4 linked regions of the Homo sapiens genome follow. The protein of the gene in region 4 purifies or fractionates together with the protein of the main gene of each other region. This does not show direct contact. Each region holds a gene or a part of one and is shown on either strand. Other genes may lie near its edges.

Region 1 (8,933 bases), on a different chromosome or scaffold from region 4:
GTGATACTTGTGCTCCAACCTTCCGAGTAGGTGGGATTATAGACGTGTACTACCATGCCCTGCTAATTTTTGTATTTTTAGTAGAGACGAGGTTTCACATGTTGGCCAGGCTGGTCTCAAACTCCCAACCACAGGTGATCCGCCTGGCTCGGCCTCCCAAAGTGTTGGGATTACGGGCGTGAGCCACCGCACCTGGCCCCCATGCTAGTCTTGATTGCTACTTCCAAATGCCTGGGCAACTCTCATTGGTCTGCTTGCATTCAGGCCCCGTCACTTGAAGTTATCTGAAAGAGAAGGCTGAGGACTCCCGAGGGAAAAGGGAAGATATGCAAACAGAGATAAGCAGGGAGAGGTAAGATGTGCTTGGAAAACTACTAGAAGGAGGGTGGAGGGTGGGGGCACATAAAGGCCTGGAAGAAATGAGGCTGAAGGGACAAGTAGGTGCCAAATTATGAAGGTCCGTGCAAACCATACTAGAGGCATTTGGCCTGATAGGTTTTAGGCTCTCAGAGGCAACAGCAGATGGGTATTTACCTTCTATCACCCATGGCCCTCTTATTCTTATTATTTTTCTAATAGCCTCTTCAGAACTTTTCCTCTTGCTCAGCTGTAGGAGATCATAAGTTCCCTACGCTTGAGTGTTCAAACTGAGAGCAGATGGTCACTCAACAGTGGGTGAGCAAGGTGCCAGGTTGCCAGGGATCAGTGTGGAATCTTAGCTTACCTACCCTCAGCTGAGTAAGAGCTTACTCAGCTTGGGGCCGGGTGCAGTGGCTCATGCCTGTAATCCCAGCACTTTGGGAGGCCGAGGAGGGCAGATCACGTGGTCAGGAGATCGAACCATCCTGGCTAACCTGGTGAAACCCCCGTCTCTACTAAAAATACAAAAAAAAAAAAAAAAAAAATTAGCCGGGCGTGGTGGCGAATGCCTGTAGTCCCAGCTACTCAGGAGGCTGAGGCAGGAGAATGGTGTGAACCCAGGAGGTGGAGCTTGAAGTGAGCAGAGATCACGTCACTGCACTCCAGCCTGGGCGACAGAGCAAGACTCCACCTCAAAAAAAGAAAAAAAAAAAAAAAAATGAGCTTACTCAGCTCTTAACACAGAGCTAGTACTTAAACTCCCTGGGCTTTAGGGCTTTAGTTTCTTCATGGATAAAATAAAAAAATAATAATGCCAACCTCAGAAGGGGTCTTGTGAGAGTTAAGTGAAATGTATATGAAAACTCCAAATAAGGACTGGCATGAGCTACACAAAGGCCACGTGTACAGGACTGTAATGGATGCAAACGAAAGGCAGGACCCAAGCCCAGCTTGCCTAAAAGTCTTTTATGCCATTACTGAACCCATGAAAATGCTGCTGGTAGCCTTTAGGCCACCAGTGTGCTATCCTTGGCCCAAACGACCCCACACTACACCTGAAATTCTGTGTTTTAGCCTCTGAATTGGTAAACCAGTATTTTTCTACCACTGAGTGCAAATTCATACAACCTTTCCATTTCACGCAAGCGCCTGCACGTAGAAAGTTGTAACAGGAGGTTGAGAAAAGTAAGAGTACGAAAGAAACCAGAACAGTAAATGGGAATGAGGCTTTTGGTAGGGTTAGCACTGACGACAACACTGTATGCAGTTCACTAAGCATCCAGATTATGACTTGGGTGGTTGTACTCTTGGGAAGTTCCTCATGAGTCAGAATTATCTTTTGTAGTTAACTTTATATGATGTTCATGCTAACACCATGCTCACCATGCTCACCTGAGCAATTCATAAACATTTCAGGAGGAGAAACACAGTGACTTCCCCAACACACCCATACAACAGTTTCAACATAATTAGTAGCATTTCTGGATCCGGCACAGTACTCTTATAATGTATATGATGGAAGAAATGAACAACTCTAATTACACCTTATTAAATCTTAATCCTCATTAGGACCCTATTATTCCTTATAAGTGAGTTACTGAAGGAAAAAAAAAAAGGAAATGCTGGTCAAGTCCCGTTATATTCCATGAGGATTGAGATAATCCATTTTTACTTCATGTAACACTGGAATTCTTTTCATACTAAACAGTAGTACTCAGAATGTGAGTACGCTGAAATGTTTGAGTGAGTGGATTGTGTTTTGATAGGATCTGACCTTTTCAGAACCCCAGAAAAAACTCTCTCCAAGAGCCCGTATCTCCCATTTCAAACTATGTTAGTTGCAAAGAGATAAATTCTTTATTAGTCTGTGGAATGGGTGGTTATTCTCGACCTTATCTCTCTGTTACTGCCTTCATATATATATATGTATGTGTGTATATATATATGTGTGTGTGTATATATATATGTATATATATGTGTATATATATGTATATATATGTGTATATATGTATATATATGTGTATATATATGTGTTTGTATATATATATATTTTTTTTTTTTGACAACAGTCTTGCTCTGTCCCCCAGGCTGGAGTGCAGTGGCGCAATCTCGGCTCACTAAAACCTTTGCCTCCCGGGTTCAGGCAATTCTCCTGCCTCAGCTTCCGGAATACCTGGGATTACAGGCGCTCGCCGCCACGCCCAGCTAGTTTTTTGTATTTTTGGTAGAGATGGGGTTTTGCCATGTTGGCCAGGCTGGCTCGAGCTCCTGACCTCAGGTGATTTGCCCGCCTCGGCGTCCCAAAGTGCTGGAATTACAGGTGTAAGCCACCGCGCCCAGCCATGTTCATATTTTTGTATGTGTACATTAGATAGTTGAGAGGAACACAGAGGTTAAGTAGTCTTACCCCTGAAATGTCTGAATTCAAACACTTATTAAGCACAAGGAAGGTGCTTAATAAATCCAATAACATGTGTTTTTACATTATTTCCTTAATTCCTGGTCAAAAGAATCCCACTAAAGTCCATCCTCAGAAGAACCACTTTTTGGAGTTTTTATGAATCAGTAGCTCATGGTGTACTCTCAACAGTTATGAATGGAATTAGGTCCTGCTAGAGGTCAGGGCCAGGTATGGAAAGATGAAGGGATTAGTCAGGAGACCTGGATGGGAGGAGGGGAAGACAGGTGCTTGGTCAGTCAGTTGTTTTGTGTTGGGCGAGTAACGTTTCTTAAGTTTTTGTCTGAGGTGTAAAGGGGGGACTACGCTCTGTCCTATCTAACTCACCTGAAGATGCAATAGCCGGGTGAGAGACTGCTTTCATTATGTGCTAACGTGAGGGATTACTTTAGATATTAATAGGAGAGAAGTGCAAGGAAAGGAAGTCTCAGGGTATGGAATGCTTTCCTGGCCATGGCTGCTGCGCGTCATAATCCCCTAACACAGTTAAGTGGTGGTTCTCATCGTCGTTCACCCTTACAGATGTCAGAGGGGAAAGAAAAATCCAACTCAAAACTTCCAATGACAGGCTTGTCTGTATTCAAACCAGTTCATCTCGTTCGCAGACTTTTTTGAAGCTATAAGCACAGAGCAAGCTTTCTGGGCGGGGCTCAGAAGTAAACGTTAAACTCCAGGGATTCATTTATTTGAGCACAGGACAGAGGAAGTTGCCCTGAAGCAACTGATTGTCATTGATATTCAGGGCTCGCTGTCAACCAGGACCTTCCAGGAACTGGCTCTGGGCCAAGAGCAGTAGAAATCACTGGGTGGTCCGCACAGCTCGCGGGCATCTAACCTGCTTCAAGGCTCAGGGCTAAAAGGGAGCCAGGGCCCTTCCTGGAGGCGGGAACCCAAGTGGGAGGCAGAGCGCCTGGGCCCGCTCCTCGATCTGCTGAGTGACGACCCTGTACAAGTCATTTCTCTTCCGAGAGCTTCAGTTTCCTCACGTGCCAAGCGGACGGGTTGGAAGTTGGTCTTTGCCAGCTCTGACACCTTGTAAGTTTTGAGTCTTGCTGGGAATCCAGGGCGGGGCTCACGAGGAAAATCTTGGAAGGGGATTTCATGGCTGGATCTCTTCCACTCAAGCTCAGTGCCCTAATTTGACGCCTTAATAGTAGACGCAGGCTTTTCCATTTTCCAGGAGCCCCCTGACGCGGCCGCTTCCTCCTACGTCTCCTTCCTCTTCCTCTAGCAGGGGCAAAGTCTCCACATCTCCCTCTTTCTCTTCCTCCTTTGCAAGCTCCCTGCATTCCCGCGTCTCCTCCTCTTCCTCCCAGGAAATGCAATGCCCTCAGTGCGCCCACCTTTTGGCAAAGCCACTGCCGGCTGCGGGTTTCCCCTCCCCCGCCAGGCGAGCTCTGCGCGGCGGCTTCGCGGGCACACGCCTTCCCATACCTTACATGGACAAATGCGTGCAGGCAAAGTCAGGAATTCAGGCCCCTGACGTCAGCCTCCAGCGCTCAGGGCACCGCACGGGAGACCAAGGGGAGGGGGTGGGGACGGTGGGGAGGAAGGAGGGGGAAAGGCACCAACCAGCAGCCGCTCCAGCCCTGCCGAAGTTTCACTTTTTGTCTGTGGGTTCGTTCCCGGGTCCCGCGCGAGCTTTCCCGGGATAAGTAGCTTTAGCGATCGGGAGACAGCCGGGCGCTGCAAGGTAAGGGCTGGCTGCACGGCCCGGGGCGCGGGGCGTGGGGCGCTGGGCGCGGGCGGCGCGCTCGAGGAGGCCAGTGTGGGGCGCGGGGCCGGGCCTGTCCGGGGCTGGGGACAATGGGAGGGGGAGTGCCCGGGCACCTCCTCCTCTGCCTCTGCCTCCGCCTCCAGCCGCCGCCGCCGCCGCCGCCGCCGCCACCACCACCGCCGCTGCCCCGGCTGCCTCCTCCCTGAGGTATTGTTGCAAATCCTTCCTTCCCCTCACCCTCCACCCGCGGGCGCCTCGGGAACCCCCAGCCCTCCCCCGGCGCGAGCGCCTCCGGGGTGGCAAGAGCGCAGGGCGCGCGCCCTGCTCTGGCCTGGCCCGCTGTGCGGAAGTGCCGGCCGCGGCCCAATCACGGGGTGCACGCCATGGGGGAGGGGGACCCAGAGTTTTTCCAAAAGCGTCGACCCCAGGCTAGGCGGGGTTGGAGCCTTGCGCGCCCCCTGCCCGGACTTTTCTGGGCGCCCAGGGGGCGGGGCCACGCCCATCCGCTTAGAGCTTTCGCGGAATCACAGTTGTCACAGCGGAAAGGGCCTAGACCCAGTCCTCCAAGTCCTCCCATTTTACAGTTGGGGCAGCTGAGGCCCAGAGAGAAGGAGGGTCGCCCGGAAGTTATTTACTAGAGGCCAGACCATAATTCAAATAGTTGGCTCCGGACTTAAGTTCCCTTTCTCTAAGCATTTCTCTAGCACCCTGTGTGTGGCAGACCCTGTGCTGGGTGTATTGGACGTTGCCCTCAAGGAACTCAGTTGAACCTGGGAGTCAAACCTGGCCTAGGGTAGAAAATGCTAAGTGCTGGAGCAAAGGCGTGGACAAAGTTAAAGGAAGTTCCAGGGAGGGGGTTTGATTTTCTGGTCCCTGGGACGGCCTTTTGGAGAGTCCTGCACTGAATGGGGTTTTTGGAGGTTGAGGAGTTTCCTGAAGCCAGCTAGCGGCTTGGAGGAAGACATCTCTTCGAGGGAACCGTGGGCCAGAGAAGACTAAGTAGTGTGGGAAATGGAGATGAAAGTATAAATATTCTTTAGTTGGAGGCAAGGGGTTGGGGATGGGGGAGGTTGTGATATGAGATGAGCTAATCAGTGGAATTGTGCCTGGGTGCTTGGACAGGGCAGAGTCTTTGGAACCTCGGAGTCGTAGGAGAACTGAAAAATCTCTCTGGCTTCCCTTCCCTTAGAAGGGATCCACTGCTTTCCCTCCCCCAACACAAAACAACTAGCGAGAACTCAGGGTCTTCTCTGGGGCTTTTGCTAGTACCAAACTCACTTAACTGTGTTTCCAGTCCCCTTTCTCTTTCCATTCCTTCCCCTTTTACTAAATCTCTTGCCTTTCCTGTAAAATTCACTCTCACTAAGGTGTTGATGACTTAATGGCTTACCTTTCCCTGCACATGTGCATTTTAAGAAAGCCTAAAGTGAAGAAGGGGAAAGTGTGGCTAGGCACCTTTACAAAGCATCTAGCTCCCTCTCCCATCCTCCCCCTTCCTCAACTCTTATAGATAGAAGAATAGGTAAAGGTCCACGAAGGTGGGTGCTAGACCTAGAGCCTATGGTCAATAATGGTGGACAGTGGGGGGTTAGGACATCCAATATGGTTTTCTCCACTTCGTCACCAGTTTTTCTGCTTGCACAGTTCCTGCCAGCACCAGGGGGCAGTTAAAGGAAAAAGTGTGTGGGCCAGGCACGGTGGCTCACGCCTGTAATCCCAGCACTTTGGGAGGCCAAGGCGGGCGGATTGCCTGAGCTCAGGAGTTAGAAACCAGCCTGGGCAACATGGCAAAACCCTGTCTCTACTAAAAATACAAAAAATTAGCTGGGTGTGGTGGCGGGGAACTGTAGTCCCAGCTACTCGGGAGGCTGAGGCAGGAGAATCGCTTGAACCCGGGAGGCAGAGGTTGCAGTGAGTTGAGATCACACCACTGCACTCTAGCCTGGGCGACAGAGGGAGACTGCCTCTCAAAAAAAACAAAAAACAACAACAACAAACAAAGGAGAGTGTGCATTTTTGCATTTAATTTCTACAATGCAGGCCCCAACCCCAACACCCAAAACTTTATAGTCTAGAATGTAGGCTCCAGAGGGGATTACCTATTCTGAATGGTAGGGGTAAAAGCCTGGGGCCTTAGGGTCTGGCAGTCCCCCCAGAGGCAGGCTCTCTGTAAGCAGCATGGGTCTAGAGTTGGTTTTGAGTGTACGCAGAGGGAGGAGAAGCTGAGCTGATGAGCTGATTGCTGTGGCTGGGACTTGAGTAGGATCTTTCTTAGAGTGACACATTCTGGTGAAGACAGTTCCAGGAAATGATGGACGGGAGAGGAAACTTGGTTATAAAGGGGCTTAAAAATGCCAGGCTAAGGAGTTTGGATATATCTTAAATTCATCATTTGAGGGTTTTGAGCAGGCTGAGACATGATTTAGAGGGGAGGTACTGGCATCGAGAAGCCCCCTGCTGCCCAATTCCAATGAGAGAGGTAATAATTTGGCCTAAGAATATTATTGGCTTGGCACGATGGCTCAAGCCTGTAATGCCAGCACTTTGGGAGGCTCGAGGCAGGTGGATCACCTGAGGTCAGGAGTTTAAGACAGCCTGGCCAACATCGTGAAACCCCGTCTCTACTAAAAATACAAAAATTAGCCGGGTGTGGTGGCATGTGCCTGTAGTAGTACCAGCTGCTTGGGAGGCTGCGGCAGGAGAATCACTTGAACCTGGGAAGAGGAGGTTGCAGTGAGCCGAGATTGCACCATTGCACTCTAGCCTGGGTGACAGAGTGAGACTCCATTTCCTCTGCTGCGCCCCACCCCCCCAAGAAAAATAATATTATCAATTGGTTCTTGTTCATTTACTCGACATAGGTTACTGAATACCTATTACGTACCATTGGCAAATATGAAAATTTTATAGCAGATTCCTGTATTTTATTGAGACAAATACGTTGTATCGAATCAATTGTAAAACACACTTTTTTCACATTTTAATATCACTGAAATGTGGTTGTCTTATTACAATGTACCATAGTTGTGCAGTTGTTTTTCATCCTAAGTTGGTAATGGCACATCTTATAGTTGATGGCTTAAATCTGATAAAATTGTTCATCATGTCGTTTATGAATGTACAGTGCTTTGCACTTTATAAAACACTTTCCAATCAGATACTCCATTTGAATCTCAAAGGTCCCCTGAGAATGAGGCCTGCTGCTGCTGTCACCTTTATTTTAACCCTTGCCCAAGGTCATATAGCTAATTAGGGATGTGTTCAAAATTACAACCCAGAACTTTTGCTTCTTGGTGGTGACGTGTGACTTTACCCTGCTGTTGAGCCAGTCTGGGTTAATTGGGAATGGGGCAAGAGTTAGATCGGATTTGATTTCAGAACTATGCTGAAGATGCTGGATGATGGGGATTTTGTACACGGGTAGAGTGTAACTCATAAGAACTGTGTAGCCCCCTTAGCACAGATATTTGCTGCATTAAGCAGAAAAAAGACAGGGAGATAGAAAATGGCAGGTAGCAGGTAAAACCCGGGGTTGGAGCCTGCTTACGGTGAACCAGAAACTGGCTTGGCCCTGAGCGTACAAAGATGAGGTGTACATGGTCCCTGCCTTTGAGGAGCACACAAGTGTGTGGTGTGTGTGAGGGGGAGGGAAAAAGGTGGAGTGGGGCATGTCCGTGTATTAAGTGCTTTTACAGGGTAAGTTTTGGCTGCTCTTCACTGAGAAGGCTCACCCTCAGGGAAACCACTATAGAGAGGGGGGTGTCTGAGCTGAACCTCTAGGAATGAGTAGGAGTTGTCCAGGTGGAAGAAGGACAGGTGAGAGAAGGACCTATTAGCAAGATAGTAGCAGATGCAGAAGCAGGGAGAAGCTGCTTTATTCTCCAGGCTGTGTTTTGAAAGGCCAGCCATGAAGAGGACCATGGAAAATGGAGAAAGAAGAGGGCCTTTACTTTTTAATAAGTAAGGTTTAAATTAATCTCGATAGGGGCCGTTAAGTGGTTCTGTAGAGATTCACAGGAGAATAAGGCTGGGTAGGGTCTCTAGCGTCATCTCTGTGGGAGTAGTTATTTGGATGGTAATGCAGGAGGCATAGTACCACTTTTAGTCTGAGTGAACCTGGGACTTTGACCCTGGGCCGCGATTAGAGGATCCAAGCTGAGTATGTTCATTGGTGGGTGGGACTTTTCCTGGAATCTGGCTTTGGAGGGCTGTGCTTTGCTAGAAGAAACTTAGTAGAGTGAGGAAGGGGAAGATATAATCATGTTGATGCATGCAGGAAGCTAGTATCTGGGTGAAAATCTGTTGGCTTGAGGGAACATATGAGGCGGAGAACCTGAGGGCAAGGGGAAGGGTGGAAGGATTTCAAGTGTGTTGTGGAAGTCTGCTGTAGGCTGCCTG
Region 2 (8,769 bases), on a different chromosome or scaffold from region 4:
CCCTAAAGCAAACTTTTTTTTAATTTTTTTTTTTTTTTTTTTTTTTTGCTTTAGCATTTAGAGGTGGTTGGAATTTGGTGGAACCGTCTGTCTTCCATAGAGAGTGTATCAAAATTGGGAGTTCAGGCTCCCCGAATCCCAAAGTGTTGGGATTACAGTCGCTGACGCCTGTAATCCCAACACTTTGGAAGGCCAAAGCAGGCAGATCGCCTAAGACCAGGAGTTCAAGACCAGCCTGGGCAATATGGCAAAACCCCATCTCTACAACAAAATAATAATTCAAAAATTAGCTGGGTATGGTGGCACATGCCTGTAGTTCCAGTATTTGGGAGGCGGAGGTGGGAGGATCACCAGAACCCGAAGTGGTCGAGGCTGCAGTGAGCCATGATTGTGCCACTGCACTCCAGCCTGGATGAGTGAGACCCTGCCTCAAAAACAAAACAAAATTGGGAGTCGCAAAGGCAGTTTCCTGGTTCCTGAACCTGCCTTTCCATTTTCCTTCCCTAGCTGTGAATACGGCCCAGGGGTGTGGCCTGAAAGTGGCCTGTGTCTCAGCCGCCGTATCGGACGAGTCAGTGGCTGGAGACAGTGGTGTGTACGAGGCTTCCGTGCAGAGGTAGGTGTCTGGGTGCTGGCTCTCTCTGTGGCCCTGTAAGCCATGAACTCTGAATATCCAGAGCCTAGGCCTGTGGAGAGGCTTAGGTTTTGGCCCCCACAGTGTGTGGGAGGAGCCCCAAGAGGGCATGACCCCACCTTCCTCTTGGCTGCCCAAGGCACAGACAGCATAACTTTTCCTGGGGTTAGAGATGCTTCAGGTTTGGGGGAGTGCTAGTTCTGTGGTAGCTACGAAAAAGGTATATGGCTAAGGAGCAAGCACTAGAGAAAGGGAAGGCCCCTTAAGAGAGGAGTCCAAGCTGGGCATAGTGGTGTGAGTCTGTAATCCCAGCTACTTGGGAGGCTTCAGTGGGAGGATCACTTGATACAAGGAGTTCGAGACCAGCCTGGGCAACATAGTGAGCCCCCATCTCTAAAAAAAATTTTTTTTAATTAAAATTTAAAAAAGGACCTGAAGGGAAGCTGAGCAAACCCCAACTTTCCTTCCTGGGGATGTAACCTCAGCCTCCCAGAATAGTTTGTTCACTGTAGGGAAGCCTAACTCCTCCTCCCCTGTTGCCTTTCAGACTGGGTGCTTCAGAAGCTGCTGCATTTGACAGTGACGAATCGGAAGCAGTGGGTGCGACCCGAATTCAGATTGCCCTGAAGTAAGTGACGAGGACGAGGAGGACAGAAGGAACGGTCTGTGTGGGGTCCCTTCTTCATCCACAGCGTTCCCCAGCATTTACCTTCACAGCCGCCCAGGGTGGAAGGCAGCACCAGCAGGACCTGCTGGCCATTGCAGCTTCTTAACTGAAGGGATGCTGATTCGTTCCTCACCTCCCAGCCATCCGCTTTACAGATAGGAGAAATGAGGTTGGAGAAATGGGGTTTTAAAAGACCTTATGACTTGGCCCAACTCACTGAGCTGGCTGGTAGCAGAGCCAGGACTGGGACTGAGACCTCCTGCCTCTCAGTGTGTTTGTTCATTGTTGCTGTGGCTTTTGTCTTTCCATCCCATCTAGGTTTCATTGATCTGGATGGAAGTTGATCACTGGGGGCTGCAGCCCAGATTGGGTCAATACACACATGGTTGTTCTTTTTGTTTTCTTTTGTTGGGGGATGATATGATCTCAATTTTTTTTTTTTTTTTTTTTTGAGACAGGGTCTCACCTGTCACCCAGGCTGGAGTGCAGTGGTGTGATCTCAGCTCGCTGCAACCTCTGCCTCCTGGGTTCAAGCGATTCTCCTGCCTCAGCCTCCCAAGTAGCTGGGATTACAGGTGTGTGCCACCACGCCCGGCTAACTTTTGTATTTTTAATAGAGATGGAGTTTCACCATGTTGGCCAGGCTAGTCTCAAACTCCTGACCTCAAATGATCTGCCCGCCTTGGCCTCCCAAAGTGCTGAGATTACAGGCATGAGCCACCACACCTGGCCTTCAATATTTTTTAATAGGAATTAGTTGACAACATTTCCATATCATGAAATTTCACCCGCATTTATGGGTTCTTTTTAAAAATTCAGACAACTGGCTGGGTGTGGTGGCTCACACCTTTAATCCTGACACTTTGGGAGGCTGAGGCAGAGGAATCACTTGATTCCAGGAGTTCAGGACCAGCCCAGGCAACATGATGAAACCCCATCTCTACTAAAAATACACAAAATTAGCTGGGTGTGGTGGTGAACACCTGTAGTCCTAGCTACTTGAGAGGCTGAGGTGGGAGGATCACCTGAGCCTGGGAGGTCGAGGCTACCATGAGCCCCGATCATGCCACTGCACTCAACCTGGATGACAGAGTGAGACCCTGTTTCAAAACAAAAAAAAAATTTTCAAACAATTGGCAGCTCTAGCTCTACATCCCTGCATGGCAGCAAAGCACTGGGCCTGTGCTCTAGAGCTCACCATAGGCCCCAGGGCAGCCAACAGCCACGTCCTGTGACTTTTAATGGAGAGAAGGAATGAGAGAGATGAGTGTGTTACTAATAGGTACTTCATATGCCCCTTTTCATTTCAGGTATGATGAGAAGAATAAGCAATTTGCAATATTAATCATCCAGCTGAGTAACCTTTCTGCTCTGTTGCAGCAACAAGACCAGAAAGTGTGAGTATGTAGCTGGACAGGTGTATTTCATACCCTAACCCTCTGGAGTTACCCCTGGGGGTCACTTTTCTGCCCTGTCCTGATCCAGTTATGGGCCTTGTCAAGGCACTGTGGGTTTGTACTGCATATGACTGTGATGCTGAATGTCGGTGCTGTGCATGTGAATACAGGCACAACGGCAAGCACACCAACTGTAAAGACAAGCACTCTCTAGATGACTGTGTGAATTCCTGCCCCATTACGTGCTGAGCACCTGCTGCATGCCAGCTCTAGGAATGGGGTGGTGAGCAGATCCTTCCTGGGCCCTACCCTCCTGGACTTTGAGCCTCATGGAGAAGAATGGTCACAGTCTGTTTTATCTTCTCCTAAGCTCAAGTGTTTCTTGCAGAGAGAGATAGGTCTTCTGTTTCCAAGAGTCAACACCAGTCACTGCTTCTCTTGGAGGGGTGTGACTGCGTGTTACCTTGATGCTGGTAGGATGCAAACACCTGCTCTGTCTGCCTGTGGGCTCCTCCCATGGTAGATGGGTTTATCCTTTATTGCACTCATCTGCCTCCAAGTTTTCTCTGATCGTAAGGCCTGGAGGGTGGCAACAGAAGCTTATGTGTCTGTGGTCTACACTCAGCCAGCCTGTGAGGGTGGCACATGTGGGAAGAAGAAAGGGCAGGAAGGCGGACAAAACGGAAGGAAGACAAGATGGGATGCTTGGGTCAATTTCAGTCTTCTGCCCACACAGACAGTGCCAGGCTGAATAGCCTCCTCCATAGCTCACTGGTACTCATGCAGGGGCATCTGTGGGATAATGCCTAGAAGTGAAGGGTCTGGACCAAAGGACAAATGCATCTGGAATTTTGTTCGATTTGTCAAAGTTCCTTCCAGTGTATAGGGGCCTGATTCCCCAGATTCCTCACTTCTACAAACTCTCATCCACTGTTGTTTGCTTAGGGATTTCAGCAGCTGTTTAGTCCAACATTTTAGCCCCAGACATGGGCTGACCCAAGATTTCCTGCGGTTCTGTCTCCCTCTAGGAATATCCGCGTGGCTGTCCTTCCTTGCTCTGAAAGCACAACCTGCCTGTTCCGGACCCGGCCTCTGGACGCCTCAGACACTCTAGTGTTCAATGAGGTGTTCTGGGTATCCATGTCCTATCCAGCCCTTCACCAGAAGACCTTAAGAGTCGATGTCTGTACCACCGACAGGAGCCATCTGGAAGAGTGCCTGGTAAGGGCCGTGTCTGGCTGGCTGGCTGGCTGGCTGGCTGGCTGGCTGGCTGGCTGGCTGACCGGCCTTCTGTGTTTATGGGGATTGGTCTACCCTGAGCTTCAGGAAGAAGGTTCGAAGGAGACGCAGGTTGTGCTATCAATCAGGCTCATCTTGGATTCTAGGCAGCGAGGCTTCCACAGGTGAATGTTGTTCTCAGACTTAGGGTGGGAGGGAAGGAGCTCTTTCACAAGAGGAAGAGTAATGGACCTGAAAGTGCCTTTTAAAACTGCCAGAACCTGGAAAAAGCCACATACTGCAGCTTTACTATACAGCATGAGAGATTAGATAAGAAGCACAGACTATGGCTGTGTGGTGGCTTATATCTGTAATCCCAACCCTTTGGGAGGCCAAGGCCAGAGGATCACTCAAGTGCAGGAGTTCGAAAGCAGCCTGGGCAACACAGCAAGACCCCATCTCTACAAAAAATAAAATTAGCCAGGCATAGTGGTGCATGCTTGTAGTCCTAGCTACTCTGGAGGTTGAGATGGGAGGATCCCTTGAGCTGCAATGAGCTGATCATGCCGCAGCATTCTGGCCTGGGCAACAGCAGAACCCTGTGTCAAAAAAAAAAAAAAAAAAAGCACAGAGTAATGAAAGCAAACACATAGGCATTCACATCCCACCTTTACCACTTGCTGTATAGCTGGATGACCTTGGGCAAGGTACTTAACATCTCTGATCCTCATTTTTCTTATCCCTAAAATGCAAATGATAATGCCTCCATCATGCCCACTGGAAGAATCTTTATAAGGATTGAGATAGCACCCGTAAAACACCTATTCAAGTGTCTGATCCACAGTGGGTTCTCGTTTAGTGGGGCCATTGCCAGCCTCCTCCCTGAAACTGACCTTCTCCGGCTTCCATCTCTCACTGCATTGGCAGGAGTCAGGACTGGGGATGAAGTAGCCCAAGTACATTTTGTCCTAAGAGACAGGCAGACCCAAGTGCAGACAGATACTCAGCTTTCCCATCTGTAGAAGGGGGATTTATATAATAGCTAACTCGGGCTTGTGATGTACAAGTGAATTAGAAGAAGTAAAGGGCTTTGTTAACCCTGATGCCATTTAGTGTTAGAATATTTTAATGATAACTCAACTGTGGGCACAAAGGAGCCCAAGTGTGGGCATTATACCTAGAAGGTCGCTCCACTCATGCTCAGATCTGTACTGGGAGCTTGTTGTGTCCCCACCCCTGTGTCTGGGGCTGGGGATTCAATGGGGAACCAAACAGACAAGGTGCCAGCATTGATGGCTAAGATGTAAACAAACTGTGAGGAGGGCCGTGTTGGAAATGGATGGGTTGAAGTGATGGAGGAAAATGTGGGGTATGTGCAAAGGGGAAAAACAAGATGTATACACCTCTCCGAGCCTCTCCTGCCTCCATTTCTGGAAGCTGGAATGTAGAGCCTCTCACTGCCTTCTTGGAGGGCTCGCCCCTTTCTCCTGCTGTAAATCACAGACCTTTGCCCAGAGAAGGGAATCTCTTTGCTCTCCATCCTTGCCTTGATCTGCATGCGCTATAAAACCCTTCTCTATCATGGCATTGTGGGGCCACATCCTTGGATTGTGGCCTGGGGCTGTCACCAGCCTTGCCCTTCCAGCTGTGTCTCCTCACAGTCTTCAATTCTTAGTCTCAGTTCCCTTATCTGTAAAATCTGGCTCATACTGCCTTCCTGGAGGTGGTTCTCTGAAGACTAACTAAGGCGCTGAAGCAGCGCTTCAAACTGTGCCATGCACACAAGTTACCTGGAGCTCTGGCTAAATGCAGATTCTGATTCAGCAAGTCTGGAGCAGAACCTGAGATTCTGCATTTCTAATAAGCTCCCAGGTGAGGCCAATGCTGCTGGTTCCTGGATCACACTTTGGGTAGCAAGAATGTAGAGCAGCAAAGTGTTTGCAGTTTGTGCTCACTGGATATCGGTTCCCATCTCTCCTTCTTAGCTGGGTACAACACAGCATCACTGCTATTGATGTTGTTACTGACAATAATGCAGTAGTTAATACCAGTAGGTTGCAGTTTATATGGCAGGCACTGAGTTAAGCTCTTTACATGCATTATCTGTTTTTTTTATTTTAGACTGAGTCCTGCTCTCAGTCTCTGGAGTGCAGTGGCGTGATCTTGGCTCACTGAAACCTTCACCTCCTAGATTCAAGCAATTCTCCTGCCTTAGACTCCAGAGTAGCTGGGACTACAAGCGCCCACCACCACACCCGGCTAATTTTTGTATTTTTAGTAGAGGCGGGGTTTTGCCATGTTGGCCAGGCTGATCTTGAACTCCTGACCTCAAGTGATCCGCCTGTCTCCACCTCCCAAAGTTCTGGGATTACAGGTGTGAGCCACCACCCCAGCCCATTATCTCTATTGATCCTCACTCCAACCTTGCAAAATAGGTAGCGTATTCCAGTGGAGAAACTGAGGCACAAAGAGGTGAAAGACCTTTCCTGTCACAGTTAGGAAAGTGGCAGAAGCCGTATTTGAACCCCAGCAGGTCTCCCTCTGAAGTCCACACACGTCAGCGCCTCTGTGTTGTCTCTTTGCCAGCACAGGGCTCCCTGGAGCCCAGAGATGGGGGTGGTGACTTGAAGGGGTTGGCAAGCCTGGGCTCCTCCAGCGAAGCATTCCCTTGGCCCTGGGCATTCCTAAGCGAGAAGAGGCTCAATCCTATTTTCTTCTCCTAATTGGATGCCTTTTATTCCTCCTTCCTAATTGAAGTCTGGTCATTGCTGGTTGCCATGGCAGCAGCCAAAGCGCTCATCTCACTGTGGCTTGTCTCTGCCTGCGGCCAATGGGAAACCTCCTTTCCCATATACGGTGGGGACATGGAGTGTCAGGCTGTCGTATTCTGGTGGCTGGAGGAGGAGAGGAAGTGAGATGGGAGGAAAAAGGCCTGTCCTCTCCCACGCAGAGACTCCGGACAGCAGGATGTGTGGAATCCCCAGTCTGTTTTCAGCCAGGCAGCAACAGCATCTGTACTGAGTTGAGTCTATGTGTCTACCAGTGGGCTAAGAACTTCATGTGCAGTATCTCATTTAATCTTCGTGATGGCCCCAGGAAGATAAGGGATCAAGGCCCAGAAAGGCTAAGTAAGCTGCCAGGTCATCCAAGGAGAAAATGGCAAAGCCTGGATTTGAACAGAGACTCCAGCTTCCTTATGTGTAGCCATCTCACCATGCTACTTCTCAGGGGGTTACTATGAGTGTCTCTCATGTCCCCAGACCCAGATTACAGGTTTGGAGGAATACACAGCCCACCTTCCCAATATCGCAGGCAACAGTTCCACCAAATGCCCTGCATGGCATCACAGGGAGCCTAGTTGCCCACTGCTCTACTGCTGAGCTCAATGCCACCCAGCCCGGGCTCTCTCGAGCTAGCCTGCTTCTCAGGCCCCACTGACGTCCCATGGTTCACCATTACAACCGTTCCCTTGCCTCCTCTCACTTTGGCATACTAACTTGGCAAAACCCAGCCCTGTCAAAGTGAACTCTCCACCCCCTCCTCTCCAACTGAGCAACTGGAAAAAAAAATGCACACAACCACGCTGTATGGTATCATTTGGAAATGGTGATCACTCACTTCCCATGAGCCCTCAATGCTGCCCAGAAATTATACTGTATCTCCCTGGACCATTTACTCACCCACTCATCACAATGACTAATTCATACTTCTCTCAGGGAGAGAAGAGAGGACAGACTCAGAAGAGGGCCCCCACACCATATCTGGCTGTTCTTGTAGGTTCTGCCATTTCCCTGGCTTCTGAGGGTGGGCCTTCTGCACTCCTGTCTGAGGCCACCACCCCCATTTTCTCGCAAGGACATTACTCCAGCAGCCATTCCGCTCTTTCCTCTATCTTCAATTTTCCCTCCTCCACTGGATCCAGCCTATCAGTATATCATCATGCTGTTATTTCTCCCATGCTCAAAACAAAACAAAAAAATTTTTTTTGACAGAGGATCTTGCTTTGTTGCCCAGGCTGGAGTGCAGTGCTGTGAACTCAGCTCACAGCAGCCTTGACCTTCTGGGCTCAAGTGATCCTCCCACTTCAGCCTCTCCCATAGCTGGGACTACAGGCACATGCCACCATGGCCGGCTAATTTTTGTATTTTTTGTAGAGATGGGGTCTCACTATGTTGCCCAGGCTGGTCTTGAACTCCTGGGCTCAGGCAGTCCTCCCGCCTCAGCCTCTCAAAGGGCTGGGGTTTACAGGCGTGAGCCACCACACCCGACCTAAAACTTTTTTCACCCCATTTCCACTTCCAACTACTACATTGTTTCTTTCCCTTTCTTTATAGAAAAACTTGAAAGAGGTGTTCCCTTCCTCTCTGTAACCCAATCCATGTGGACTTTGGCCCTCATCTTTCTTTTTTCTTTTTTTTTATTTTTGAGACAGAGTCTGTTGCCCAGACTGAAGGGCAATGGCGTGATCTTGGCTCACTGCAACCTCCGCTTCCCGGGTCCAAACCATTCTCCTGCCTCAGCCTCCCAAGTAGCTGGGACTATAGGCACGCGCCACCACACCTGGCTAATTTTTGTATTTTTATTAGAGATGGGGTTTCCCCATGTTGGCCACGCTGGTCTCAAACTTCTGACCTCAAGCGATCCACCCACCTTTTCCTCCGAAAGTGGTGGGATTACAGACGTGAGCCACCGTGCCTGGCCTGGCCCTCATCTTTGTACCGAGGGTGTGCTCTTCATGTTCCTCAGGGAGCTCCTTGTTACCAGACCAGAGGCCAGCTCTCCATCTTCCTTCTGGACCTGCCAGCTACATTTGCCACAGTTGCTGACTCCACCTCCTTCAAAATCCTTTGCCC
Region 3 (8,769 bases), on a different chromosome or scaffold from region 4:
AGCCAGACTCCTTTTCTGGCGAAAAGTTAATTTAAAACAGCAGGTTGCAGTGTATGGTATTACCCTGCCACCTTCTGGCCAGGTTAACAGTTGCAGCCCCGGGAAGGGATTACTAGAGATTGTAGTTCTTAGGCCTGCATTTGTATTCAAAAAGACAGAAACAGGAAAAATATCATTTTTTTGTTTGTTTGTTTGTTTTCCTTTGCAAAGCAGGAACTTTGAATATGTTAGATATGATTGTAAAGAGCACAAGATGTTTCCCTTGTTGGCAGATGATCACTGTTGGTCTGAGGAGGATGATCTGTTCCAGAGCTAGCTTGAGACAAAATGTGAAATAAAAGCCCCAGTGCTCATCTACAGCTGTCCTGTTCACAGCTACATGTTTTACTGACCACACAAAACAGGGCAGGGCTCTTTAGAAGTGCTCTCTTCCTGTTCCCAGAAGCATTTTTATTTGTATGTATGGTCCTAAGAATTCTGAGTAATTGATTGGCCAATTCAGATATGTAAAGACATTGACAAATCCACCTTGTTTCTACGGTTTCAAATACTGAAGAGCCAAGTGCTGTGCCCTGTCAGTGGCCTGGGCCTGTGGGAGGGCCCATGAGACATTTGTGTGGTTTGTGCGCCCTCTCCTGGGGAGATGTCAAAGCTACAAGTAGCAGGTTATGGAAATAACCACAAAGAAAATAACCAGGGGAATGGTGTGTGTACATAATGGCCCCAACAAAACAGAAAGCCGCGTGGGGCCTTCACCACTGCTTCTGGGAAGGAGTACGGTGTGTGTGCGTGCGTGCGTGCGTGTGTGTGTGTGTGTTAGGGGGTGCATACCACTCCTGGAACCAGCCAAGCCTCCACTCACATTTTAGTCACCAACGTGTTTGGGTAAGCACACTACCCAATCTCTCAGGATTATGATTCCTTATCTGCAAAATGGGGTTGCTACAGTAATCCTTGTGTCAGGCTGAAGGATTTAATGCAGTGATAACATGTGAAGCACTTAACCGTGTCTGGCACTCAGCACACAGTTCATGGTAATTATTAGTACTCTGTGACAGTGATGATGATAAGTAATAAACTCTGGCTAAACACAGTTCTTACTGTAAACCATGGAAAGCTATGAGAAGAAGAAAGAGAAGAAAATGGAATGTTCTGTGCCAGCGTTCCTTCCTGTGCTTTGAACTTACATCTTTTGACCTTTCAAGGTAGTTTTGCTCTTCCTGTATTTGGAGTGGTATCTAGTGACCACTTCTAACATTCAGCCAATTTGGAGGGGCAGTAAGTGAGGCTGGATGCTGGAGAAGAGGGGAGAGAGTGATGAGGGAAAAAGTTGCCTAAAGTCTGTCACCCACCCAGTAACCCTGAGGTCTGGGAGTCCTGTCTTGCAAGTGTGTCTGGTTGGCCCATGCCTTGCTCCTGACACTTGGGTCTTGCTGTGTCTGAAAAGTTTGTGGATGGAGACAGTATCTCTGAACCTTTGTGAAACAGTTTTTAACTTTTTAAATGCATATATTAGAAAACTGCTGTTAAAAAGTTACCCTAAGAGAAAATACATCCAAGAGCTTTGATTGCAGATAATATTCAGTTGCATGTCTGAAAACAAGTGAAAGCGTATATTTAACCATAAAGGCTAATTCTCACAAATTAGCTGGGCATGGTGGTAGACATCTGTAGTCCCAGGAGGCTGAGGCAGGAGGATGTCAAGGCTGCGACGAGCTGAGATTGCACCACTGCACTCCAGCCTAGGTGACAGGAGTGAGACCTTGTCTCAAAAAAAGGAAAGATGAATTATCTTCAAGTCACCAGCACTTTTTTTCAGGGGACGTCTGCCCTGCATGTGGGGTGGTGGCTCCCTATCAGGGACGTTTGTCATCTCCCTCAGTGCTCTAGAGGCTTAGGCAGGTAAAGTCAAGTCCCTTTTACGTAAACTTTGCTGTCCAGTGCCAGTCCCTGCTGGATGACACCAACCACGTTGGAATAACTGCAAAGGCCTTCCGCAGTCAGTCACTGTCATTGTCAAAGTCAATTTCAGGCTGCTGTGGTTATTCCTGGGGGTAATCAATAAATCATGTCATCACCTTCACCCTTCACAAAGGGGGGTGGGCGGAGAGAAGGCACTTCATCATCAAGGAAAAAGCATTCCCACTGCCAGAAATAAAGTGGAAAATGCAGCAATCAATCCTGTAATCTGAAGCCTTAAAACTTAAACATCTTCACAAGATGTAAAGTCACGGCTCAGAAGGGGGCCAAAATGCATACCAATACAGATCCCTGCGCTCACTCTCACTCACTGGAGGATGAAAGAGCACCACAGGCTTGCAGCTCATTACAGTACAGAGCACAGCCTTAAATGAATGTTCCTTGCTCACTGCAGGATGCTGGTGTATGAATATGAGTTCGAGATAAAAGTTAAGTGGTCATTGGTACTAAAGATTCAGTAGCACAAAAAGTTTTTTAATGGTATTGGCTGGTGAGGAGTTCCTGTGAGTCAAAGACATTTTTTCTTTATTTCTGTTAGAATAGTAGCACAGGAGATGTAGGATATGGCATGTGGAGAGAAGGGGAGACCAAAAGAGGTGGAAACTTATCCATTGAGTAGCTAGAAGCTCTCTCTGTGATAGAAATGTCACTTGAGGGAGATAGATCATTTCCTATTCCTGAATATATGAACACTGCAGTGAATGCTTGAAAGAAAGAGACTAAGGACCAATGAGAATTTGTGTAATTCATCCCTTCCCTTAAAATATTTCAGGACAAAGAAAAACCATATTCTCTTCCAAGTAATGACTGAAAAAACTGGCGTCCCAGGAATCTTATAAGTCATAGTGCCTTGAGTTGTTTACAGCTGTAGATTTGAATATTAACATCCTTGACTCCCAGAAGGAAATCTTATTTTGGATTGCTCATGACCAAACTATGTATGTATTTAATACTTAACTTTTCCAAATAAGACATTCTGATTAGTGCTCTCACCCTCCCCTCCATAGATGTGGAAAAATCATTACCAAAAAGAAGAGTGATCCACTTGCTTGGGGAGAAAACCACTTGTGTGTCGGCTGCTGTGTCTGATGAGTCTGTGGCTGGAGACAGTGGGGTCTATGAAGCTTTCGTGAAACAGTAAGGATTCAGCAGGGGCGCTTTTAGCTCCAGCGAATCTCCATCGCCGTGGATGTGGGTTATATGCTGTAAATGGACTGCTACCATTAGTCCGCTCTTTGGCTTAGTAAGGACTTTAGCCGTTAAAGAAGTGGTGTGCCTGAAAAGTTCAGTATATCAAAAATGACTTAGCCATGGAAATTATCGATAAACAGATTGGTGTACCCAGAGGCAATTGACCCTCTTTAGAATTTAAAAACCTTGAATTTAGTGGGAATATTGGAAGAATTCACCAGACCCTGTTTGGCACATGAAGCTTCTCACGTGTATTTCTGAAAGTCTGAAATGTCTCAAGGGTGTGGTATATTTCTAGTAATAAGGAAAGTAGTCATCAGAGAGGCTTTGCCCTAAAGCCCAGAGGCGGGCTCTTCTTGAAAAGAGCCTCTGAAACAGTAAGCTTTCGCTGGGATCAGTTCCACTGGGAGGGCATAGGAGTGCTGTTAATTTGGATTTTCATTCAGAATCACTAAGTGGCAAACTGTTAACCATAACAATCGATAACCCCATTAATTAACTGTTCATCTACTCCCTGTCCATATAGACCTAGTGAAATGGAAGATGTCACATACAGTGAAGAGGATGTAGCCATTGTAGAGACCGCCCAGGTTCAGATAGGACTCAGGTAAGGAATGTACGTGGGAAAGGAGCAGTTCTGACATCTGTGCAGGGCAAGTGGCCTGTGGTGATTCCTGACTTCATTTAGCCTCTCTTTTGACAGATACAATGCAAAAAGTTCAAGTTTCATGGTGATTATAGCACAGCTCCGAAACCTTCATGCCTTCTTGATACCTCATACTTCAAAAGTGTAAGTAAAATCAGCGAAGATCAAATTGAGGAACTTAAACATTTCCATGTAAGAGAATTTTACACTGTAATCATACAGTTCATCAAAATGAAGATACGGAAAAGACATAGCAGGGCTGATCATGTCTAAATGAATGGCAGATAAAGATGAGAAGGGAAATGTGAGGAAGACATATTGAGTTTTAATTCTTACTCAACTGATTCTTTCTAAGAGTAGAAGCCAAGACATTTAATCTCTTTTTTGTAACCAGAAGCACTGTTTTATGCTGTGTTGGAATTTGATTGAAATATGGGTAAAATTTTTGTTTTTGTGTAATTGTTACTACTGTTGTTTAAGGAATTTTCTAATCTTTTACATTAAAATGTAGTGATTAAATTTTATGTATCTGTACAACATTGCCAGTCAAACATTTTATCATGCTACATGTAAGAGTATGTTTTTATCATCAAGCATTTACTTCCCTGTGACCAGTGAGTTCTTAAAGTTATTTCACTTCATCAAACCAAGAATCCCAACAAAGTGATGACATAATGCTACACAGTCCATTGCTTAGAGACTTTTTGCTTCCTGACAGATAAGCCTAAAGATCTCATGACAAATAAGTCTGGAAGTCTTAGACACCACCATTCACATTTTCTGACATCAGAGTTTCAGTGACTCTGAAGGGCTCATGGCTGGAAAGTACCAGGAAGAATCCAGACTTCGACTTAGCACTATGACGTAGAATCCGGAATATGCATGTCCACTCTGCATTGAAACTTCCTGTAAGAAGTGGATCTTAATAATATTTTGAATATGCAGTGCAAGGCTTTGGAAATTTAAAAAGAGCTGTTGAGGGGTGATCCCCAAGACTCTATACCCAGCCAGGTGAATGTTTTCCTTAATGATAGAGTATATTCCTTAGTGATAAGACTTTTAATAGAATAAATTAAAGAGTTCTGCATGTTTTTCCTACAGAGTTGCTTGTAAGTTCACCTCCTAACATTCCAATAATCATCAGAAAGAAGAAACTGGATCTAAGAGAAAAAGAACTAGATAGAAATTATGTAGTTGACAATAGAAGAATAGAGATAGTGGCTTTCTTTTTTTTTTTTTAAGAGATGGGGTCTCACTGGGTTGCCCAGGCTGGTCTTGAACTCCCTGGGCTCTCCCACCTTGGTCTCCCAAAGTGCTGGGATTACAGGCGTGAGCCACCGAGCCCAGCCAAGATAGTAGATTTTAATGTGTTGACAAGCATCAAAGCTGGAGGTAGGATAGGATTCCAGGAGGAGGGTGAGCTTAGAGAACTTCCTGAATCAAAGTGTGGACTGTCCACATCATTAGTGAGACCAGTGAGGAGAGCAGGCATCACATAGAAGTGCCTAGATCAACGCAGAGAGCCTGCTTCCCAAATGCGAGATGAAAAACACCAGTCAGCGGTGTCCAGGAAGACTGGCTTGATATAAACTGTGACTTCTCCCTACCAGTAGATAAGCTGTGATGTTGGAGCATGCCATTGGTGGCCTTTTAGTAAAGCAAATCATGGAGAAGACAAGTCTACCAGAGACTGAAACAATAAACAGTGAGAACTAATGCACAACTTCAGGAGAAAACTACAGAACACCCCAAGAACACACACCTTCTTTAAACTCACTGTAAGGGTGCACCTGCAATATGCTCTACTTCAACTAAACCAATCACAGTCATTCTCACTTACCTCATAGGATGTCACCAAGTCCCTTCTGGAGGCATGGTGATACCTGCGTAGTGTAGGACCAGTGAAATACTCAGCCCAACCAATGAGCAGACATTTGCTCTTCGGCTCCCCAGCTAATGTGCAGGCACTTGTTGAGTTGGTGCGAACCTTCCTGACATATATAGCAATCTTTCCTTAAACCCACATGTAAAAGCCTTGGCCTAAATAATGACACTGCTAAACATGACAGCTAGTATGAAATATTCTTAAAATTGTTCTTTTTTTTCCCAACCTCAAAAGTTATTTTTTGATTATTAATTGTGACAAGCAGAAAAGATTTTCTTCTGCTGAATCTTCGGCCTCCCAGGGACAGTGAGCTGTGTCTTAGTAAGGCTCTTTAATCAACAGCAGTGGGCTTCAGGCCCACTAGGTTTTCATTGCTGAATCTCCATAATTAATATTGATATGAAATACAAAATAATATGACATTCCTCAGTTCTGCATTTGAATTACAGTTTTTCTAACGGAGAAAGGCATGTTTTAGAATCTAGATTAGACAAGCCTGGAAATGGGGGTGGAGGGGATAGACTTAGCGGTATTCTCTTCCTGGGATTTAAAGGAAGTTACCTCACGCTCTTTCTAAGAATTGTGGGTCCTCATACAATGTGTGCTCAGAAGAGTCACTTTAAGGTAGTATTAGAAGTTATTGTTTTTCTATAACTCTTCCTCTGAATTTTACAAAGCACGGGACTCTTAAAACAGTTTGTCGTATCTCAGAATTTGGAGATGCTAGACAGTGATATTTTTGAACCGTTGTTTCATCTGTTTTAAATTTTCTTAACAATATGCTACTGAGCCTTTCTTTTTCTCTAGTAGGATAATGTATTCCATTCCTGGGAGGTGATCATCAGCATCTCTTGTTTAATACTCAGGATGAGGATTCTGTGAGATAAAGTCACCAGTATCTACTTAGTGTGTTCCCACCTTCCCAGGCTCAGAAATAACTTATTTTGGAATTGGCTGTCCATGGGGCAGGTGGGACGTTAAATTCGTCTGCCCTACGGATTTTCTTCCTCTTCACTTTCCTATCATGTGCCTTTGCTGCAGTCTCGTGGTGAGTGGAGGCTGGGCCATTGCATGCTCAGGGGCGTAGTCAGCTCGGGTGGGTTAAGGACAGAGCATCTATGCAGCTGAGCACGGACCCGTGATGGCAGCAACACTTTAGATTGATCTTGAACTCCACGATCCCTCATTTTCTCTCTTTGCAGATAATTTCAAATGATAGCTGTGAATCTGGTATAATTAAAGTACCTATGAAATCCATTTTATTCTTGTTCTTTGCAGATATTTTAGGGTTGCCGTTCTTCCTTCCTCAACTGATGTCAGCTGTCTGTTTCGCACAAAAGTTCATCCGCCCACAGAATCCATTTTATTCAATGATGTGTTCAGAGTCGCCATTTCCCAAACAGCCTTACAACAGAAGACACTGAGGGTAGACCTTTGCTCTGTCAGTAAACACCGAAGGGAAGAATGCCTGGTAGGATTCTTCATAATTCCCATTACCAAATAGCACTTAGATTGGGTGGTCTGAGGATATACTTTGTAGTTGCTATTTTGCCAGCCCTAGAAATCACTACAGACCTGCCCAACATCTTGGGATACATCTAGTGTTTGTTCATTTTTTTCTGAAGTAGTGGTTTCTGTTTATTCTCTTATTCCAGACCTTTAAAATCTGCTTATAAATTGTGATTTTCTGTAAAAGTTGCTTTCTATTTCTACCTTTTCACCACAGAAGAACTTTACCTTTGTGACAGCTATCACTCATGGAGTGTGCTTACCACTCCCAGTACCAATGCCAAGCTTTGCGTGACTGCTGTGTATATATTATCTCATTTAATCCTCATGACAACCTGATGAAAGATTGGTTATGAAATGGATGATTATCCACTATTTTCAGATAAGGAGCTGCTTAGAGAGGTAATATATTCAACGGTCATACAACTAGTAAGCGATGAAGCCAGATATCAAAAAGATATCCCCACATAATTACATAATTCACTGTTACAAATTAAAATTAAGCAAGACCACTGAGTACTATATAGTACCCTTATTCACCTCATTCTCCTCCACCACAGTATTGGAGCTTTCGGGAAGATGTGATGTTACTGTTTAAAGCAATATGACATTTAAATGCTACAGCAGAAGACTTCACAGTTAACTAATTGTGAGTTTAATACACTGTTGTGCGTAATAACCAGAAAACCATTATGTCCCAGTAAAGTTACATAAGTATTCAAATGCAGGCATCTAGAGATGTGCCATGTGTTCAGAAAACAATGTGAGTCTCCAATTGAGCTTTTCTCTGCAGTCCAGTGGGAAGCACAGAAACACATGTTTCATGATGAACAAAGTTTAAGAGGGGTAGGTTTCTTCTTAATTTTTCTTCTTGTTTTCTTTACTTGAAAAAAATATCTGATGATATTGTCTGACAATAAAGTTAGAAAGAAGCAGAGCTAACAGACTCGTTAGGCTATCAGAAAGGCTTTAGTATCATAGATGTCATATTTAGTATAATAGATGTCAGAGGCTCCCACAAAGTTCATAAATATTATATTGATAGCCTTAAAGAAGAGTGTAATTGAATTTAGATTTTGTCTATGTGTGATTTGGTGGAATATGGAAAGCCTTTATCCTTTACTTTTTTTGCCATTCTACTAACTTATGTATCTAAAGAAAACTGTTGCTTTTTGATGTCTTATTCAAGAACCAAAGTGGAGTTTTTATTTTTTTTTCAGTGGATAATGGGTTGTTTGTGAGTAAGTCACCTTTACAGCATATTATAAGAAGTACTATGAGGCCGGGTGTGGTGGGTCATGCCTGTAATCCTAGCACTTTGGGAGGCCGAGGCAGGCAGATCACCTGAGGTCAGGAGTTCGAGACCAGCCTGGCCAACATGGTGAAACCCTGTCTCTACTAAAAATACAAAAATTAGCTGGGTGTTGTGGTGCGCACCTGTAATCCCAGCTATTCAGGAGGCTGAGGTAGGAGAATCGCTTGAACCCAGGAGGTGGAGGTTGCAGTGAGCTGAGATCACACCACTGCACTTCAGCCTGGGAGTCAGAGCAAGACTCCA
Region 4 (4,499 bases):
GGTGGAAATGAGGCTGGGGAAGAGAGGGACATAGTGACTTAATAGCTCTTTTTGCGCACATTTCCTTGGACTGTGGTGGCCTCAAGATGTTACTAATGTTCCCTGCAAAAGGCTGTGTCTTCTTGGAGAGTCTCAGTACCAATTAGCATATTAAAGACTAAGAAGTCATACGATAAATAAAGCTGTTTAATTTTGTTTTACTTGCCCAGGGTTTTTCAAATTTGAGCTCAGAATTCTTTTTCTGTTTACATTTCAAGGATGATTCATGCTGCCCAGAGCCCTTGAGGGAAATAGCTAGATACTGATAGCACTTAGCACACTATGTTTTTGTATAATTTTGGTATTTAGTGAGACATGGTAATTATGTCCAACCATACAAAGTCAGTGAGCTACACCTGGGGAATGTTGAAGAAATAGTCTGCATGGACATTCTATTTATAGCTAAAACTAATCAGAAAATCAGAAGTAGGCAATCATGGCTTATTTCTAGAAGACGCTAAGGTGGAAAAGAGACTGTCCATCTCCCAACCAGGTTTCTGCCAGGACACTCGTGTCCTCCCATCCTTTCTGTCTCCCCAGGGGAACACATTATCTTCATTACCGTTTCTCTCAACCTAGGTGCTGGACATCCCGAGAGTGCTGGACATGCTGAGGCAACAGAGAATGATGCTGGTGCAGACTCTCTGCCAGTACACATTTGTGTACAGAGTCCTCATCCAGTTCCTGAAAAGCTCCAGGCTCATCTAAGCTCCCACAATTTCTTACGGGGCCAGTCATGTGAAGCGTTTACAGCTTAAAAAAAAAGCGCTTGCCTAACTCATACTTTCCCGTTGACACTTGATCCACGCAGCGTGGCACTGGGACGTAAGTGGCGCAGTCTGAATGGCGGCACGCTGAAGGAAACGTGCGAAGCACAGGCTGAAGAGGGGTTTCTAACCTGGGAAAGGTGCTCAAGGAGGACTTGGTTTCAAGGGCCTTGCCCTGCCCCGGTCTGTCCGGTTTGCAGTACTTGCACACATTTTGGAGATTGTATTTTCTAGACAATTCTCTATTTTACTGAAGCTATGCTGGGCAATTCTGGCAATCATTAAAGTGCATAGATTTCTATCTTAAACTAATTTTTGATAATGGAGTTTTTATTTTATGACAAATATTTAGGGATTTTTCTAGTGAGAAACAACTTTGTGTAAGGATGATCCACAGATATGAGTTGCTCCTATATAACTTTGTATTTAAAAATCATGTTATTATCTTTTGTTATTTTTTAAAAACCTTGGGTACTTAATAATGGTTTAGTTGCCAAACTGAAAACTATACTGAGAATCTGTGTTATTTTGAAACATCAAAAGGATTTTTCTATCCAGAACATTTTTTATCCTAAAAATTCTATATAGTTGTACCTTCTGTTTTTCAAATGAGAGCTCAATTCATTTAGATACTGAAATGAGTCAGTTAATGTAAAGTTGAGGATGAAGGCACATTATTTAAAATGTAAGAGAATAAGCATTATTTTTTCAGTATTATTCATAGATCTAAATGAATTTGATTTTATTGGTTGAAAATGAAGTGAAAAACAATTGCCTAGGGTGGTTTTAAGCACTTTTTTGTTAAAAACAAATCTGAGTTTTAATATATGTGTTGCTTTGTAGATGACACAATAACAATGGGCGCTGAGAAGCGTTTTGGGAGAGATTAAGGACTAAGAGTATGTAAGATGACTAGGACAAGAGTAGGTGGAGTGTGATGGTAAATGCAGGATGCCTTCGTCTTTACAAAAATGCAGTATTATCTATACTCAGACTGAGGTGCTGGGATGGCGAGCAGGGGACCCCACAGCACTGTCCCCAGGGAATTCAAGTCCTGTGACCGCCAGTGACTTACTCCGTTTCCTTGGGGCTTTTCCCACCTCAACCTGTATTGTTTCTTTTTCATAAATAAATTCAGCATTATAGTATCATTAAAAGAAGCCTTAAAGAGGCGTATTTTTCCTTTTGGTTGAAGGAAGGGAATAGTTAATAATAGTTTTCACCTCTTCTCCCAAAAAGTACAGTCCAAATTTGTGCACAGAGATTGCTGTGGTATTCAAGAGGTACTTGCATTTTAGCTCCTTAATAATTCCCTGGCCAGTGTTAGCTGTTTAGTGCCCCCTCACCCATCCCATTTAGGCACATCCCAATAGACAGAGCCAGGCTGAGTTACAGGGGGAGAGTGTCATCTCTGGCCCCGATTAAGATGGCCTTGTCACAGTGACCGCTGAGTAGGCATGGATGAGTGGGATATTTAGCTGAGGAACCCTTTCCCTTTTCCTTCTTTTTGGGGTCTCTTCTTACAGTGAACTTCCAAAATGTCAAATCTAGGGCTGTTTCCCAAATTACACTATTCTAGGCATCATTTTGATTCCCATGTCACTCCTTAACTCACTTCCTTGAGCACTACATGTATGTTGTCAGCCACGAGACAGGACTTCCTAAATAGTGTGTGCACCAGCCTAACTCTGCCTTACCCAGAAACCAACCACCTAAGAGGAAAACTCAGAAGATATTAATGAAAACTAATTGAAAGTACGCACACTTCTCATGTAGGAACAAAATTAAAATTTTACATTTTTATTTTACAAAATTAAAAAATTACATTTTGTAGGAACAAAATGTAAATTTTGTAAATACAAAATTCTTTTTAAAGTCCTGTTTAAAGAACAGTAGAACTAAGTGAAAATATTCAGAACGAGCTCCTTAGAAGAAAGGAATAAGAACTTTTTACTGGAACTATTTTCCATCTCTAGAAAAAGTGCTTCTTCCCCTCCCCCTCCCTCTCCATGGTACGTTTTTGTGAAAATGCTTTTCTGTCAGGTTTAAACAAACAGTTTGACATAGCTCGTTGACAAGAACATATTGTAAAACAAATCTAATTAAAGAGTAATATGTGGTCTATTTGTGTTCCTGTTGTAATAATTTGATAAGTAAACTTCTGAGGGCAAAATTACTGTTTAATATTACTCTTAAAATGTTGCATGTTTGGCGTCATTCCTAAGAGCCATGTAATTTTAAACTTTTAATTGCAGTTAGTGAATATGAAAGGATTTCTGAATAAAAATCTATCCACATTACTGAGCTTTGAAATAGTATCATTTTCAAGAGCAAACTAGAACATTAAGGGTTCATAGGTTTACTGCCTCTGAAATGAGTATATTAATGTCTGCCAAACTTACACAATGCTTCATGTATCTTAGTGTCTTTTAATAAGAATTATCAAAATGTGCACTTCCACAAAACGTAGAGTTATAAACCACTGTTTTCCACTGATCAATTTTGGTATCTCTGGTATCAGTTTTCCTGATTAGTGGGGTCTTTTGATGAAATAGTTTAGCTTAGTTGGTAGTTTTGAGCACAGAAAGTACTCATTTTATTTTTTATTTTTGAGACGGAGTCTTGCTCTATTGCCCAGGCTACAGTGCAGTGGCATGATCTCGGCTCACTGCAACCTCTGCCTCCTGGGTTCGAGTGATTCTCCTGCCTCAGCCTCCTGAGTAGCTGGGATTACAGGCATGCACCACTATGCCCGGCTAATTTTTGTATTTTTAGTGGAGACGGGGTTTCACCATGTTGGCCAGGCTGGTCTCCAACTCCTGACCTCAAGTGATCTGTCTGCCTCGGCCTCCCAAAGTGCTGGGATTACAGGCGTGAGCCACTGTGTCCAGCCAGAAAGTCCTCATTTTAGAATATCATTTGGAATGCTTATTGTAGTCATTAATTTCTTCTGGAACATCTACTGTGAAGCATTCAGAAAATGCTAGAACTTAGACTTTAAAACCCTTTGGTCGAATTAGAAGCTGGGCCTGTGCTTCCTTAGAAACGTCCAGAAAGCAATGTCTAGCCAGAAACAGGAGGAGGAGGGAGGAGAGTGTGGTGTTGTGGGACTGAGTGGCGACAGCATGACGTGGCCAGCTTTTCTGTGAAGCTTTCACCATCAGTCATTTCAGAAGGGTTGAGATGTTAAATGTTCACAATATTAAGAAAATTTAAATATACAACTATGTACAGTAATATAAACTGGAGATTAGCTGCAGCTTGCCAAGAGCAGGTTTATTATTTGAGATTTGCATAAAGAAATGGAAACAGGAAATTATTGTAAATAAGACTTTTTTTTTCTTTTTTGAGACGGAGTTTCGTTCTGTCACCCAGGCTGGAGTGCAGTGGCACGATCTCGGCTTACTGAAACCTCCACCTTCTGGGTTCAAGCAATTCTCCTGCCTTGGCCTCCCAAGTAGCTGGGATTACAGATGTGCGCCATTACGCCCGGCTAATTTTTAATTTTTAGTAGAGATGGGGTTTCACCATGTTGGCCAGGCTGGTCTCGAACTCCTGACCTCAGGGGATCTGCCAGCATCGGCCTCCCAAAGTGCTGGGATTACAGGCATGAGCTACCATGCCTGACTGTAAGTCAGACTTTTTAAAGGAACTCTTTTGGATAGAAATGTAGTTGAATTTGCTTATCAGCAA

The links.
Region 1: the proteins of PTPN21 (region 4) and LPP purify together in Homo sapiens (affinity purification with mass spectrometry; 2 studies listed by BioGRID and IntAct, with this or other methods). This does not show direct contact.
Region 2: the proteins of PTPN21 (region 4) and WWC1 purify together in Homo sapiens (affinity purification with mass spectrometry; 3 studies listed by BioGRID and IntAct, with this or other methods). This does not show direct contact.
Region 3: the proteins of PTPN21 (region 4) and WWC2 purify together in Homo sapiens (affinity purification with mass spectrometry; 2 studies listed by BioGRID and IntAct, with this or other methods). This does not show direct contact.

The regions. Positions count from the first base shown.
Region 1 is NC_000003.12:188,149,511-188,158,443, forward strand, and holds the start of LPP (lipoma-preferred partner), read left to right. Parts: upstream 1-4,646; 5' UTR 4,647-4,742; intron 4,743-8,933. UniProt on the Homo sapiens protein: May play a structural role at sites of cell adhesion in maintaining cell shape and motility. In addition to these structural functions, it may also be implicated in signaling events and activation of gene transcription.
Region 2 is NC_000005.10:168,427,526-168,436,294, forward strand, and holds part of WWC1 (protein KIBRA), read left to right. Parts: intron 1-507; coding exon 508-616; intron 617-1,181; coding exon 1,182-1,262; intron 1,263-2,611; coding exon 2,612-2,698; intron 2,699-3,726; coding exon 3,727-3,919; intron 3,920-8,769. UniProt on the Homo sapiens protein: Regulator of the Hippo signaling pathway, also known as the Salvador-Warts-Hippo (SWH) pathway.
Region 3 is NC_000004.12:183,261,991-183,270,759, forward strand, and holds part of WWC2 (protein WWC2), read left to right. Parts: intron 1-2,987; coding exon 2,988-3,117; intron 3,118-3,697; coding exon 3,698-3,778; intron 3,779-3,874; coding exon 3,875-3,961; intron 3,962-6,980; coding exon 6,981-7,173; intron 7,174-8,004; coding exon of another isoform or gene 8,005-8,052; exon of another isoform or gene 8,053-8,057; intron 8,058-8,769. UniProt on the Homo sapiens protein: Regulator of the Hippo signaling pathway, also known as the Salvador-Warts-Hippo (SWH) pathway.
Region 4 is NC_000014.9:88,464,385-88,468,883, reverse strand, and holds the end of PTPN21 (tyrosine-protein phosphatase non-receptor type 21), read left to right. Parts: intron 1-618; coding exon 619-747; 3' UTR 748-3,106; downstream 3,107-4,499.